Regions from separate parts of the Homo sapiens genome. Here all the other regions are linked to region 3. Evidence: fine-mapped expression QTL. A gene starts in region 3. Each other region holds a variant in brackets. All regions are shown on one strand. Distances are from middle to middle. Region 1 overlaps VPS53 (VPS53 subunit of GARP complex). Region 2 overlaps GLOD4 (glyoxalase domain containing 4). Region 3 holds the start of GEMIN4 (gem nuclear organelle associated protein 4).

What was found. PIP is the estimated chance that this variant, and not a neighbour inherited with it, causes the effect.
Region 1: its variant is the best candidate, but not a certain one, in a credible set for the expression of GEMIN4 in spleen (GTEx, PIP 0.79).
Region 2: its variant is the best candidate, but not a certain one, in a credible set for the expression of GEMIN4 in blood mononuclear cells (TOPMed, PIP 0.56).

The regions. Positions count from the first base shown.
Region 1 is chr17:613,843-618,842 of GRCh38, forward strand. The region is part of intron 11 of VPS53 (VPS53 subunit of GARP complex); the gene reads right to left. Among named protein-coding and RNA genes, the nearest start is that of VPS53-AS1, 94 kb to the left of the region's middle. The variant G/A (reference allele first, on the strand shown) is at 2,472.
Region 2 is chr17:774,315-779,658 of GRCh38, forward strand. GLOD4 (glyoxalase domain containing 4) reads right to left here. Exons shown (of 9, transcript NM_016080.4): 2 at 4,381-4,430; 3 at 2,554-2,674; 4 at 1,461-1,605. Among named protein-coding and RNA genes, the nearest start is that of GLOD4, 5.3 kb to the right of the region's middle. The variant G/A (reference allele first, on the strand shown) is at 3,264.
Region 3 is chr17:749,281-754,280 of GRCh38, forward strand. GEMIN4 (gem nuclear organelle associated protein 4) reads right to left here and starts at 2,984. Exons shown (of 2, transcript NM_015721.3): 1 at 2,853-2,984. The coding sequence starts at 2,862. It also overlaps the pseudogene DBIL5P. RefSeq lists an enhancer at 2,264-2,323 and silencers at 2,504-2,923, 3,104-3,363.

The DNA of each region.
Region 1 (5,000 bases), 140 kb before region 3:
TATTCACACAGTGAAAAAGTGGAAACCACCCGAATGTCCACAGCTGATGGAAGAGACAACAATATGTGCATCACCCACACAACGGTGCACTATTCAGCCATCAAAATGATGCACTGACACACACCTCATCATGGGTAAGGCTCGCAGACACTGTCCAGAGGGAGGGAAGGCAGACACAAAAACCACACATCGTAGCATCCGTTTATGTGAAGTGTCCACAACAGGCATCCGTAAAGACAAAAGTCAATTCGTAACTGCCCAGGACTGGGGAAAGAGAACTTGAAAGTCCTGCCTGCTAAGGAGGGATTTCTTCTGGGGTAACAGAAATGTCCTGGAGTTGCACAGCTGGGATCGTGGCATCATCTTATGAATATATGAAAACCAACTGAACTGTATACTTTAAACGATAAATTTCATGTGACATTTCGTGACATGAGTTATATCTCAATTTTAAAAACTAGGCAGAGAAAACTGTATTTAAAAAAATACAATTTCAACCATGTAAAATATATAGAAAGAATATACCCAAATCCTCATCTCTGATTTGGATGACTTTTTTCCTGCTTCTCTATTCTCGCCATAATTTCCAAATTTTCTATCCTGACCCTGTATTATTCTCTTCTCAGAAACAGAAGTTAATCGTCCCTTGCAATATTATTCAAATGGAAGAATACATTTCTTTAGCACCAGTAAAGCATCCATAAAATATTTTCCAACGCTGAAGGGAGTGCATGAGGCGGGGGAATCTGTCACTGTCGGAGACAGATGTCCTCAAGCTGTGGCAGAGCTGGAAAACCTGCCCCTGTTCCTTACACAGTCTCCCTCATGCAGGTGCCGGAAGACCAGGGTGTAGAGTGAGACATGCTGGGTGGTCTTTCATGAGTCGTGAGCCTTTTGCAAACGCTCTTACACTCAAATTCCATGGCTGACAATTGTACCCATATAGCTTCTATCTTTAGAATGTAATTCTAAAAACTGGGGAAGTAAAGGCCCCTATAAGCCAAAGGACAAGTCTGTTTCAAAAGGCAACTTATGCAGTGGTCAAGAGGAAGGGAAATCCAGCTGCATAAAAGGGGAACATTTTTAATTTTATTACTACAAAAAAAACAAAAAACAAAACAAAAACCTCCCAGTGAGGCAGTTATAAAAAGCTAATCCGATCTAGTCTGCTTTTCTGCTTTCAGCAGAAGGCTGAATGTCATTTGCTCACCTTGAATCTAATCATCAAGTCACTAATAATGCATATGGATCCAGTTACATCACATCCAGACATTCTCTTTTAATTTCAAGGCATTTTAATTTATAGACTCTCTTGAATTCCTCCTAAAGGGTCAGAAGTTGAGGCAACTGGGAAAAGCACAGGCAGCTCACCTCCTCAAGTAACAGTTACAGCACAGGACATCGTGAAACTGGTTAAGCAACAAGCCTGTCCCTGAGGCTCTTTCAGTCTAAAGTTCTATCAAATGTTGAAGTCACAGCTCTTGAAAAAGAGCCAAGGATGATGCATCCCACTGAAGTCAGGAGTGATGGGTCAGGAGGAGCTGAGCTGTGGCAGGTCTTGTCTTCCGGGCGAGCTGGCCACACTCTCAAGCTCATCCTCACTGTTTCACTGCCAGTCACCAAGGACTGGAGAGGTTTGGAATGATACAGTGAAGGCGGCAGTGGGGGTAGGGTGGGGATGACGTACAGCCTAGGGAGGGGCAGCAAGGGAGAGTCTCTGGCCGTTTTGGCTCCTTGGCTGACATCTTACCTGTTTTGTGGCACCTTTCTGAGGAATTCAGTAACTTTCTATAAAATCTGGCATATATCAAAGGGTATCAAGATATACCTTGGTTCGTTTCACAATTTATTCTGGTATTTTGAAACAAAATGGTAGCCAAAAAGGAGTTTCCAAAGAGTGTATCCTGAAAGGAAGGTAGCATGGGGAAGGGGTCAGGGGCCAGGGAGCAGCATATCTCCAGGCAGGGTACCCAGCAGCTAGACTGGGGGTCAGGACAGCTGGAACTCCTGGCCTTGCCCAGGCAGCCCCTTCCCGGTGCTTTGCGTTGGGAGCATGGTCGGTAGCCATGATGAATTCACCAAGGTCCCTGCCACTGAGGGTCGCAGAATAAAGGTGAAGAAGGTCGTGCACGGCCCACAATGAGATGATGGTGGGGACCAGGCTCAGTGTGAACATCAGCTAGAGTGACAGCCTTCACGTCTCCTCACAGCAGAGCTGCAGTGAACCGATTCCTCAAGGCCCGTCCCACCTGGGTAAAGTGGCCATAGGGCTTCTGTTGCCTTCCTAGAAACTTATCTTTAAGGGAAAACCCTTGAAGGATATCAGACAGCCATTTTCAGGATTTGGAATGCAGAATAACTGCCAGGTCGTGATACCTGGCACAAAGAATAGGGTAGGAGGACGAAGTTGAATTAAAGAAGCTGAAGGATTTAGAGAAGTCTGTGGAGAGGAGAGCTGACTAAATAGAGAG[G/A]GAAAGAAAGAACTCATGGTGTTCATCAGGCTTTTCTGGCTAAGGATTTAGAACCTGAAACTCTGCAAACTTGAGAGGAGAGGAGAGCAACAACTGAACAATGAAGAGGGGATGATTTAAAGACCAGTTCTGCCAAAACATTTCAAATATGAAAACCAAAAAGGAAGGAGCTGGGGAAAAAGGCTCAAGTGTTCCTAGCTGACCCCTGACCACCACCACAGAGCACCACCTCGGCCAGGAGACACTGGGCTCCAGGCCAGGAGCTTGGCCCTGGCCGAGTGAGTTCAGGCAGAAAGGGGCTGTGCTGCCCTGAGAAACCAGTACCCCCAGCCCAGTCCTCCCGGGACAGAAGGTGTCTGACAGTTGGCCAACTGCCATTCTGACAGTCCTGTACCTGTGTTTTACAATAAAGCATTGTCTTTGCAAACTTGAGTAAGCTCCTGTCAGTTTTTCATGGTCTCTACGTGGTTACCCTGTTCAGCTGCCTCAGCTTGTCCAGAAGGGCCTTCCCTGCCCTCGTTCCCTTACCACTTTTGGCCTTTGGGGGATTTTTCCTTGGAGAGGTCCTGGGACAGACCCAGGTTCACAGGCTACCCTGGTCCTCAGATGCAACAGGGCCATTTGTTCCTCTGTGGTCCTATAGCTCCCTAAATGTAAAAGACAAATCACCAGGAAGTAGGGCCCAGCCAGAGAGGGTGAAGAATGGCTCAAAACAAGTGCTTGGCAAGAATGTCATTCAAGCATCCTTCACTGGGACCTATTTCCCGTCCGGTTATCTGGATTACCAGCTCACAGAGCCTGTCCTGATGCTCTCCGGACCCTGCCCAGCCAGAGGCCGTGGGAGCTCAGGGGGCTACTCCCAGGGTGGGGCCTGTGCTCAATGCTGAACCCTCATGCTTGTCGCCGGGCAGATCTCCGTAGGGCTGAATCCAGTGCCACATATATCTACGCTTGAAACCAGGCAGGAGCATGGCTTGGGAAGGTCCGAGAGGAGAGCCAGCAAGAGGAATCAGGGGGCTGCTAAAGCCAACCTCATACTTCTCAGGAGAAACTCAGGATTCCTTCAGTGGGATCTCTGTTCCTATTTCCTTTCCTTTTCTGTTTTTTTGAGACAGTCTCACTTTGTCACCCAGACTGGAGTGCAGTGGTGCAATCTCAGTTCATTGCAACCTCTGCCTTCTGGGCTAAAGTGATCCTCCTGTCTCAGCCTCTCAGGTAGCTGGGACTACAGGCGTGCGCCACCACGCCCCACTAATATTTCCCGGGTAGCTGGGACTACAGGCGTGCGCCATCAGGCCCCGCTATTATTTCCCAGGTAGCTGGGACTACAGGCATGCACCACCACGCCCCACTAATATTTCCCGGGTAGCTGGGACTACAGGCATGCGCCATCAGGCCCCGCTATTATTTCCCAGGTAGCTGGGACTACAGGCATGCGCCACCACGCCCCACTAATATTTCCCGGGTAGCTGGGACTACAGGCGTGCGCCACCACGCCCCACTAATATTTCCCGGGTAGCTGGGACTACAGGCGTGCGCCACCACGCCCCACTAATATTTCCCGGGTAGCTGGGACTACAGGCGTGCACCACCACGCCCCACTAATGTTTCCCGGGTAGCTGGGACTACAGGCGTGCGCCACCACGCCCCACTAATATTTCCCGGGTAGCTGGGACTACAGGCGTGCGCCACCACGCCCCACTAATATTTCCCGGGTAGCTGGGACTACAGGCGTGCGCCACCACGCCCCACTAATATTTCCCGGGTAGCTGGGACTACAGGCGTGCGCCACCACGCCCCACTAATATTTCCCGGGTAGCTGGGACTACAGGCGTGCGCCACCACGCCCCACTAATGTTTCCCGGGTAGCTGGGACTACAGGCGTGCGCCACCACGCCCCACTAATATTTCCCGGGTAGCTGGGACTACAGGCGTGCACCACCACGCCTGCTAATATTTCCCGGGTAGCTGGGACTACAGGCGTGCGCCACCACGCCCCACTAATATTTCCTGGGTAGCTGGGACTACAGGGGTGCACCACCACGCCCCACTAATATTTCCCGGGTAGCTGGGACTACAGGCGTGCACCACCACGCCCCACTAATATTTCCCGGGTAGCTGGGACGACAGGCGTGCGCCACTACGCCCCACTAATATTTCCCGGGTAGCTGGGACTACAGGCATGCGCCACCACACCCCACTAATATTTCCTGGGTAGCTGGGACTACAGGCATGCGCCATCAGGCCCCGCTATTATTTCCCAGGTAGCTGGGACTACAGGCATGCACCACCATGCCCAGCTAATATTTCCCGGGTAGCTGGGACTACAGGTGCCCACGACACCTGCTAATATTTCTTGGGTAGCTGGGACTACAGGCATGCACCACCATGCCTGTTAATATTTCCTGGGTAGCTGGGACTACAGGCGTGCACCACCATGCCCCGCTAATATTTCCCGGGTAACTGTGACTACAGGCGCCCACCAGGCCTGCTAATATTTCCTGGGTAGCAGGGACTACACGTGTGCAC
Region 2 (5,344 bases), 25 kb after region 3:
CAGTGAAGAAGGAGAATTTCCAGGACTCCCTTCTCAGGCCCACTTGCAGGCATACGTTCACCAAGTAAGGGAGTCGGCACAAGTGCCCTTGCCATTCGCCAGCATTTTCCCCGTTTTTGCTTTTGTTTTGTCAGAGCAGGTAGCTGAATTTGCAGGCATTAAATACAAAATGAAACACTGATGAGGCTGCCTCTGCAGTCAACAAAACAAACCCTGCAAAGTTTCCTTCTTGTTCTGTGTGGCAGTCAGCGTGGGGGCTCCTCACTTCCATGCCATCCCTGAGTACCCACGCTCAAGTCTGGGAAACTGACCTCGGCTCCAGAGGAGGCATGGCTAAATGGTTTGGGGGTGATCCTATTTCTCTTGCCAGTGATTGGTTTAGGAGCAGGCACAGTATATCAAATCTGAACAGGAAGTTTGCTGGAAGATTCTAGGAAAGTTTTTCTTCTGCTCCTAAAAAGAAAGCAAAAAGGGCCGGGCACGGTGGTTCACGCCTGTCACCCCAGCACTTTGGGAGGCTGAGGCAGGCGGATCAAGTGAGGTCAGAAGTTCAAGACCAGCCTGGACAATATAGTGAAACCCTGTCTCTACTAAAAATACAAAAATGAGCTGGGCGTGGTGGCATGTGCCTGTAATCTCAGCTACTGGAGAGGCTGAGGCAGGAGAATCACTTGAACCTGGGAGGCGGAGGTTGCAAGTGAGCCGAGATTGCAGCACTGCACTCTAGCCTGGGCGACAGAGCAAGACTCCGTCTCAAAAAACAAATAATTTTTAAAAGTTAATAAAAATACTAAAAAAAAAAAAAAAAAAGCTGAGCGTGGTGGCAGGCGCCTATAATCCCAGCTACTTGGGAGGCTGAGGAAGGAGAATTGCTTGAACCCGGGAGGCAGAGGTTGCAGTGAGCAGAGATCATGCCAGTACACTCCAGCCGGACTGACAGAGTCTCAAAAAAAAAAAGCAAAAAGAAGTCAGCATCTCCTCTCCTACCAGATGGGATTGTGGGAGCATGTGGCCCCACCTGCTCCTGGCAGCTCTCCTGCAACCTTGAGGGGACTAGTTCTAGGAGAGGTACCCGCAGAGAACAACAGAACGTAGAAAGAGAAAATGTGGGGAGCTGGTGAATCATCTAACCTTGAAATCTTTCCCACCTATAGAATGCCTGCTCTGTGAGCTAAAAGATTCTATAACTGTTCAAAGTAGTTGGGTTTTCTGTTATTTACAGATGAAAGAATCATAAATCACTACATTACCAGTAGAACAGAACTAGTCTAGATCCCCTACTGCTATGTATTTAAGTTCTGATATGAGAATGTAGTCTCTCCGATAACAGGTAAAAGCACTGGCTGGGGAAGACACGTCACGTGAACACAGACTCTACAAAAAAAAGACAGGCAGCCCTCACTCTCCTTTCACCAAAGATGCCTTTAGACAGAGGCTTTTACTGGTTCTGGTATAATTACCTGACTGAGGCAGACTGCGATTCTGCAAATAGAACTTATATCCTCCCGGGGCCTCGGTTTCAAAAACACCTTCTGCAACTTCCGTCAGTGGCCACTCCAGCTTCCTGGCGTTGCTGACAGCCTGGCTAGAAGCGAGCGTGATTCCCTACAACAAACAACAGTACATCCAAGTACATGATCACAACAGATATTTTACAGAACAAGACAATGAGCCCAACCCCTATTGCCTACTGCCTTTAGGTAAAATCACCTAAGATTTAACTGGCATCCAACATTTTCTTCTAGTGATTTAAAAACAGGTTTTCAATGTTTTATCCCACAAACATTCAGACCTTTGTGAATAATAGGACAGAAATTGAAATGCCAGTGAAGTCTGATTCATTTAACACCAAAGATAACGTCTTCTAATTCTAAAGATCTAGCCACAGAAATCTTGATGTTACCTGGGTCTGCCAGCTAGCTACCTATTTAAGGTGACCTGTTCTTGCTTTTTTAACAAACAAAACAAAAATAAGCAAACTATCAAGGTTTCCTTACATTTAATCAAAGTGCCTAGAAATGTACACGTGTGCTTTGAGAAGACCAGCCTTGTTTCTGGCTCGGTTTATTATAATGGCCTCTCTGCCTCCAGTCTTGTAAATCCATTACCCACTCTGCAGCCAAAGTAAACTTTCCAAAACGCATCCTATAGTCCACCCCCAGACTGCAGCCAGCCTTGTTTTCCCTTTGCTCAAAGTCCGCCAATGGCTCATTTCACTCGGTGACTTACGGCCTAGGAGGCCCCCTGCAGTCTTACCCCATGGCACTGCCGACCCCATCTCTTACCACGCTCCCCTCTCGTTCTCTATTCCAGCCACACTGGCTTCCTTACACCTCCTCGAACACGCCAGATGTTACCTGACGGCTCTTGCCAGAATATTCTCTGCCTGGAACGCGCATCCCCCAGATATCCACGTGGCTAACTCCCTGACCTCTTTTGAGTCTCTGCTCAAATGTTATCTCTTCACTCACACACACCCTTGGCACTCTACTCAAATTTACAACCAGCCACCTACCCCCAGCCAAAACTCTGCTAGAAAAAAACGGTATTTACCATAAAGTCATTGCCAAGCTTGTAGTCTCCGACGCCATAATTGTAAGTCAGTTCTGCGACAAAATGATCATCCTCAGGCCCAAATCCCACCATTGTTTTACTCCATTTCCCATCATAAGGCCTAGAAAATAAAAGTAAATGAACTCAGTGACTACAGACAAGTCAGCCTCAGGCCACCCCCAGAGAACTACTGGGCACAGAGAGATGAGCATTCCTGTCTGGTCCTAAAAGTTCTCTTAAGGATGAGATGACCTCAGATGGTACAGAAAGCAGCTGTGGGCAGTGCTCATGGGACCCTACTACAAGCTCCAAAGACTATCCAGCATCTACCTGAAGGAAAGATTTGTTCACCTTTTCTGTAAAGCAAGGAACAGAATCCTAAAGACAGTTCTCCAACTGACCTGTTATTTCCTTGACTATCAATCAACAAGCATGAAATTCCTAATAGGCCTTGGACTGTTCCAACTTGTCACGGTACTAAGCTTAAGAGATGGACGGGCGTGGTGGCTCAGGCCTGTAATCCCAGCACTTTGGGAGGCCGAGGCGGGAGGATCACCTGAGGTCAGGAGTTCGAGACCAGCCTGGCCAACATGGTGAAACCCCGTCTCTACTAAAAATACAAAAATTAGCTGGGCATGGTGGCACATGCCCATAGTCCCACGTACTAGGGAGGCTGAGGGAGGAGAATTGCTTGAACTCAGAAGACAGAG[G/A]TTGCAGTGAGCCAGGATAATGACCCCGCACTCCCACCTGGGTGACAAAGTGAGATTCTGTCTCAAAAAAAAAAAGATACTGGAAAGCCGCTGCTTCATCTAGAGCATGTACTTATTTGCATTTGTGGCATAATATGAAACATATCTGGTCATTGTCCCTGGTTCCTGTCTCAGAGCTCCCAAAACCTCTGGAATTTCCTGATAGGAATATCTTTTGTTATATTCATAATGAGCCCCTTTCAGTCACACCTGAGTTTATGCTAATGAAGTGACTTAGAGTGGGGCCTCTACATAGACTCAGGATGGGGCTGGTCACCAGAAAGACAAATGATTAGAGGACTGAACTTTCAGTCCCATCCACCAACCTCTGGGAAGGAAAGGGATGGAGACTGGGCTCTATTAGGCTTGAACAATGAGACTCATGAGCTTCTGGGATGCTGAACGTAGGGAGGTGCTGGATTGGAGCCTGCCCAGAAGAGCATGGAAGCTCTGCCACCCACTCCCCATGCCCTGCCCTGTGTATCTCCTCTGTCCAGCCATTTCTGACTCGTACTCTTTATGATAAACCAGTAAATGTAAGTAAGTGTTTCCAGCGTTTCCCTTAGTTCCATGAGCCACTGTAGCAGACTATCAAACCCAAGGAAGCAGGAGCGGGAGCCCTGACTTGTAGTTGGTCATCGGAAATCCTGAAGATCCAGACTGTGACCGGCGCCTGACGTGGCGGAAAATCTTCTGGGACTGAGCCCTTAACTTGCAGGATCTGACATTAACTCCAGGTAGAGTCAGAATCAATTAAATAACAGGACAGCCGGCTGGTGTTAGAGAGCTGGAGAATCCCTTTGTGTCCCACAGGTGTTGTATGAGAGTGCAGAGAAATGTGTTCCCGACGCTCCTGAAGTTGCCTCCCTAATTTACTGCCTTCTTAATTAATTCCACTGCTTTATACTCATGAGAGTGCAGAGAAACAGTATGTGTTCCCGACGCTCCTGAAGTTGCCTCCCTAATTTACTGCCTCCTTAATTAATTCCACTGCTTTATACTCACTTTGAGAAACTGTCTTCTGTTATCCGGGTGTAGTCAGAGCCTAAAGGAGATTTTAAGAAACAAGGTATCATACCCATTACAGGCAGCTTTGCAGCCTTCTTCAAATTCCTCATGCCGCAGAACCTGGTGTGAGATTTAGAATAAATTGTGAAGTGTTGCTAGTACTGCTCACAGCGTCTTTAGCACAGACTAAAATGTCAAAACACAAACATTATCATTTATAAGCTTTACTTGTAAAAGAACAAAAGCAAATGAGCTTTACACTTCTCCCAGGATAGAAGCAGTGGAAGGACGAACAGCTTGACACCAAGGGTCAGGCTACCAAATCAGTTGTGAAATCTATTTAGATTGGTAAGCAGTGCTATGCAGTGGGAAAAAGTGTGGCCTTCAGCATTAAAGAAGTCTGATTTGGGCCGGGCACAGTGACTCACGCCTATAATACCAGCACTTTGGGAGATCAAGGTGGGTGGACTGCCTGAGGTCAGGAGTTCAAGATCAACCTGGCAAACATAGTGAAACCCCGTCTCAACTAAAAATACAAAAATTAGCCAGGCGTGGTGGCGTGTGCTTGTGATCCCAGCTACTCAGGAGGTTGAGGCAGGAGAATCACTTGGACCATGAGATGGAGGTTGCAGTGAGCCGAGATCGTGCCCCTGCACTACAGCCTGGGTGACAAGAGCAAAATTCCATCTCAAATTAAAAAAAAAAAAAAAAAAAAAAAAAAAAAGATGGGCATCGTGGCTCACGCCTGTAATCCCAGCACTTTGGGAGGCTGAGGTGGGCAGATCACCTGAGGTCGGGAGTTCGAGACCAGCCTAGCCAACACAGTGAAACCCCATCTCTACTAAAAATATAAAAAATACAAAATTAGCCAGGCATGGTGGTGGGCGCTTGTAATCCCAGCTACTCAGGAGGCTGAGGTAGGAGAATTGCTTGAACACGGGAGGCAGAGGTTGCAATGAGCTGAGATTGCACCATTACACTCCAGCCTGGGTGACAAGAGCAAAACTCAAACTCAAAAAAAAAAAAAAGTCTGA
Region 3 (5,000 bases):
GCCACAGGGTAATGGGCACAGCAGCAGTCACACGGCCACAGGGTAATGGGCACAGAGCAATCACACGGCCACAGGGTAATGGGCACAGCAGCAATCACACGGCCACAGGATAATGGGCACAGCAGCAATCACACAGCCACAGGGTAATGGGCACAGAAGCAATCACACGGCTACAGGATAATGGGCACAGAGCAATCACACAGCCACAGGATAATGGGCACAGAGCAATCACACAGCCACAGGATAATGGGCACAGCAGCAATCACACAGCCACAAGGTAATGGGCACAGCAGCAATCACACGGCTACAGGGTAATGGGCACAGAGCGATCACACGGCCACAGGATAATGGGCACAGAGCAATCACACAGCCACAGGGTAATGGGCACAGCAGCAATCACGCAGCCACAGGGTAACGGGCACAGCAGCAGTCACACAGCCACAGGGTAATGGGCACAGAGCAATCACATAGCCACAGAGCAATGGGCACAGAAGGAATCAGACAAGCCCTGCCTTCACTCTTTATAAACTTGCCTTGGGAACAGGCTTCAAACATTCTTCTAGCTTTCAGGGAAACGGTCCACCCCACAGCTCCTTCCAGTCAAAAACAAGGTACTCATGGCCCTAGCTCTGTGGGAGAAACCAGGGAGTAGATACAGAAAATACTGTGCTAGATTAAGCCTTCCTTCAGGGAACTAACGATTGACACAGACTTACCATGGAAAACATCTTGGGATGTTTAATCAGACATGGGTTTAAATCCTAGTTCAGCCATTTAAAAATGATGTGATTCTGGCCAGGTTCAGTGGCTAGCACTTGTAATCCCAGCTACTTGGGGGGCTGAGGCAGGTGGATCCCTGAGGCCAGGAGTTCAAGACTAGCTGGGGTAACACAGTGAGACTCCCCCTCCATCTCCGAAAAAAAAAAAGGGATGTGATCTTGGTCAGATTGCTTCTCCAAGCCTTCCTTCTGCATATGTGGGGATAATACAGACTTCATGTTATGCCTTTGGGGATCATGTGATATATACCAGTCAAGCCCTTGCTAGTGGGTTGGCACTGCTATCTCCTGACCCCATCTCCCCGGGACGCTATGATGGATAAATGAGATAGAGCTACAGTAAGAATCCAGTTACAGAGTCTAATTAGGTGCTCAGTAAATGTTGGTTTCCCCAAACCTTTTCATGGTTGGCAAGACCAGAATCTTGTCACTATTCTTTGCCTCCCCCAGCTCAGAAACATCAAAGGATGTAGGTCTTTATCAGGTATGTTTCCTTTGGCCCAGAAACTAAAACGAGGGTGCAAACACTGCTCCCTATTCCTCATTCCTGAGTCATCTCCCCTTTCCCAGGAGTGAGAGATGCTACTCCTTCCTCAGTCTGTCATGCCCCCAAGAGCTCATATTCCCCATTTTCACAGGCCAGACACCAGCAGAGAAAACACTGACTCCAGGAGACTAAGGACCATCTTACCCCTCCCACCATTTATGGGAGCGGCAGCAGGCCAAGGGCTCAGCACTATGTAACCCACTTGTGGAGGCAATCCATCTCATCTCACAGTGGCTGAGACCGACTCCCAGGGAGGGTTACGCTGCGAAGGGGACCTCCCTGGGGGTTACCGCCCTTCTTTCTGGCTCAGGAGGCTCTCCCAGGGTCCCAAAATATAGTCCCTCCTGACGCTGTAAATTTAATTTTATTGCATTATTGGCTTAGTTGAGCAGATGTTTGGCCCTAAACACCTGCCTTCCAGGCGCATTAAGTACGCACAGTTTGAAGTAGTAAGTCCCAGGGCGGTTACTAGCTGGAAAATACTCCGGTACTCTATCATGGATGGTTAACTAGTGCTTGCCACAGCCCGCTTCTTAGGTTTATTAAGCACCTACTCCATGCCAGACACTGTGCTAGGTGGTACACAGGTAAGATCTCTTCTATTCACAATCACCTTTTGAGGACTAGTATTCCTGCTCTAGAGATAAGGACACTGAGGCGCAGAAACGATTTGCTGAGGGTGTCCCAGCCTGAATGTGGTGGGGCTGGGAAGCAATTACGGCTGAGGGGCTCCAAGCCCTTAGAGCTCTGCCATTCCGCTCCTGAAAAGCTGTCTGGGGGCGGGGACCAGACCATTTCCCCCCAGCCTACTACTGCTGACACATCTCGGGGTGCCTCACCCCCAGCTCTCCCAGAACAGCCTCCTGGTCTTAGCAGCGTGTGCCAAGATTTAGCAGGGAGCATCTAGTTCCTATGGGCTCCCTCCCAGACCTTGCCTGTAAGATTCTGAATCCGGACGCACGCAGGTTCACAAAGTGATACCTCAGGAGCGCAGCCGCCCCCACCGCGGGTGTGACCCGCGCAACCCCACAAGGGACACTGTACCTCGGCGATCTCAATGCAAAGTCGCCCAAAACTCAGTGGGGAGACACACTTCCATTCTCCCCGCTCTGTCGATGAGGAAACGTCATGAGCGTAAGACACTTGGAGCGTTAAGACACTTGCTCAAGAACGCAGCTGCCGTTCAGGAAATGAGGCCGTCGGGGCGCCCAGGGGTGCTCGGAGGGAGCCCGTTTCCCAAAGCACGTGCGCGAGCCCCGGGCGCTTCCAAGGGCTCTAACTTCACGTCTGCTCCGTGTTTTCAAGCGCAGGGGGCCGGAGGCGGCAAGACGCGGCCCAACGCGCGGCGGGACCCGGACCACCCCCCGCCAAGGCCACCCCGGGACCCCTAGACCCGCCCCGACGCGGGGGACGTTTCGGTCCGGGCCCGCGCGAGCGTGCGCGACAGGAGGAGACGCGACGGGGCAGCACCGCTCTGGTGGCGCATTGCTGGACGCAGCCCGGGGCCGGGGAGCCGCGGCACCCACCTAGGTCCATGGCGGCGACGCCGGCGGCTGCGCGGGGCTAACGCCCCCTCCCCTCCGAGAACTCGAACGCGGCGCGGGACGCACGGCACGATGGGAGACGCAGGAGCCACGGCGGCCGCGCTTAGGCCTGCTCACAACCTCCGCCCGGCCCCGCCCACAGCCTCCGCCGCGCACGCGCAGTCCTCACGAACGAGCGCGCCAAGCGCACAGCGCCGCCTTCCGGCAGAGCCCTCCCACCAGCCCTCAGGTACCCGGACGTCGCTCACTAGACCCCTCCGCACCGTCCCCTGCCCGGCCCCTCTTCCGGGGTCCCAGCGGGTCGGGCTCATGATTCCCCGGCCCCGCATTCACCCTCACCCGGTAACCCCGGGCGTGCCCCGCACACAGTTCACCCCCACCGAGCGCCTCCCCCGGGACGCCCACCACCCAGCGCGGCCGCACCACGCGAGGCTTCCACTCCCACCCGCCCAGCTCGCGCCACATACAGTCCCTCAACGCGCTCCTGCCGCGCCGCCCCCTCCAGACAGCAGCGTTCCGGATCCTAGACGCTTTTTGACGGCTGGTCCTCCCCAGAAAATGCGCCGTGTGAGCCCAAACATGGTGGGGTTTACGCTGGACCCCGAGCTTGCAATCTGTGCTTGACAAAACACAAACATCGCGTGCCTGTCTCCTCCCCCTGAGATCGAGTAGTAACAGCCACTCCAACTCTCCACCTCCAGCTTCTAGCACCAGGGACCGCCTCCACCACCCCATGTGCCAAGTGGAGTTCGAGCTGCGCGGCCCTCAAGCAGCTGAAGGGTCCCGTGAGCGATCAGGAGAAGCTGCTGGTCTACGGCTTGTACAAACAGGCCACCCAGGGCGACTGCGACATCCCCGGCCCTCCGGCCTCAGACGTGAGAGCCAGGGCCAAGTGGGAGGCTTGGAGCGCGAAAAAAGGGGCGTCCAAGATGGACGCCATGAGGGGCTACGCGGCCAAAGTGGAGGAGCTGACGAAGAAGGAAGTGGGGGGCGTGGAGCGCGAACAAAGGGGCGTGCAAGATGGACGCCATGAGGGGCTACGCGGCCAAAGTGGAGGAGCTGACGAAGAAGGAAGTGGGGGGCGTGGAGCGCGAACAAAGGGGCGTCCAAGATGGACGCCATGAGGGGCTACGCGGCCAAAGTGGAGGAGCTGACGAAGAAGGAAGTGGGGGGCGTGGAGCGCGAACAAAGGGGCGTCCAAGATGGACGCCATGAGGGGCTACGCGGCCAAAGTGGAGGAGCTGACGAAGAAGGAAGTGGGGGGCGTGGAGCGCGAACAAAGGGGCGTCCAAGATGGACGCCATGAGGGGCTACGCGGCCAGAGTGAGGAGATGAGGAAGAAGGAGGCTGGCTGAGGGCTCCTCGGGAATGGAAAGGGCTTCTTAGACCTTGATGGCTGAAATGTCCTGAAACTGTCGCAAGCTTAGCCGAGACATCAATAAATCACTTAAACTGCATGAGAGTGACTGCTGTTGGAAAGGAGAAACTCGGTGACTGAGTGCTGGGGAGGCGTCCAAATACACAGACTAACTTTTTGTATGGTTTTGGGTGGAGTTCCCAGCTCTCCTATTACAAGAGCGTATGTAGGTATTTGGAAGGACGAGGGGGACAGTGTGCTGTGGAAATGCCCAAGATCTGAGGGCAGGAGACCATTCTCCAGTGACAGCCTCTTGGGAGGTTGAGGCCCCAGCCCCTTATCTCTTCAAGGCTGATTTACTAATACCCCAGCACCACAGAGGGGAGAGGGACTCTGTCCTCCTAAACACTAAAGTCAAGTCCAAAAGCCCCCACTGGAACACAGGGCCTACCCGGTTCATGTTTTGAGGGAGACCAAGCTTTCCGTGATGATAATGTGATGAAACAATTGATGCGCCAGAACACAGCAGTTTAGAAACAATGGAGCAGATGGTGTCAAAATCCCAGCCCCAGAAAGGCTCACCTAAGGCCGGGCAACCAAAATGTTCCCGGGACTATTCTGTACTTAACCCTGGTTTCTGCTTAGGGGACGGTGGGACAATATGCATATGGATGTCTATGTGGGATTTGTTGCAAGAGCACAACACACCCCTTGACCTATGCAAGTGCCAGAGTGTCTGAGCCCAGCTTCTACTCCTGTTAATGATCACAGGA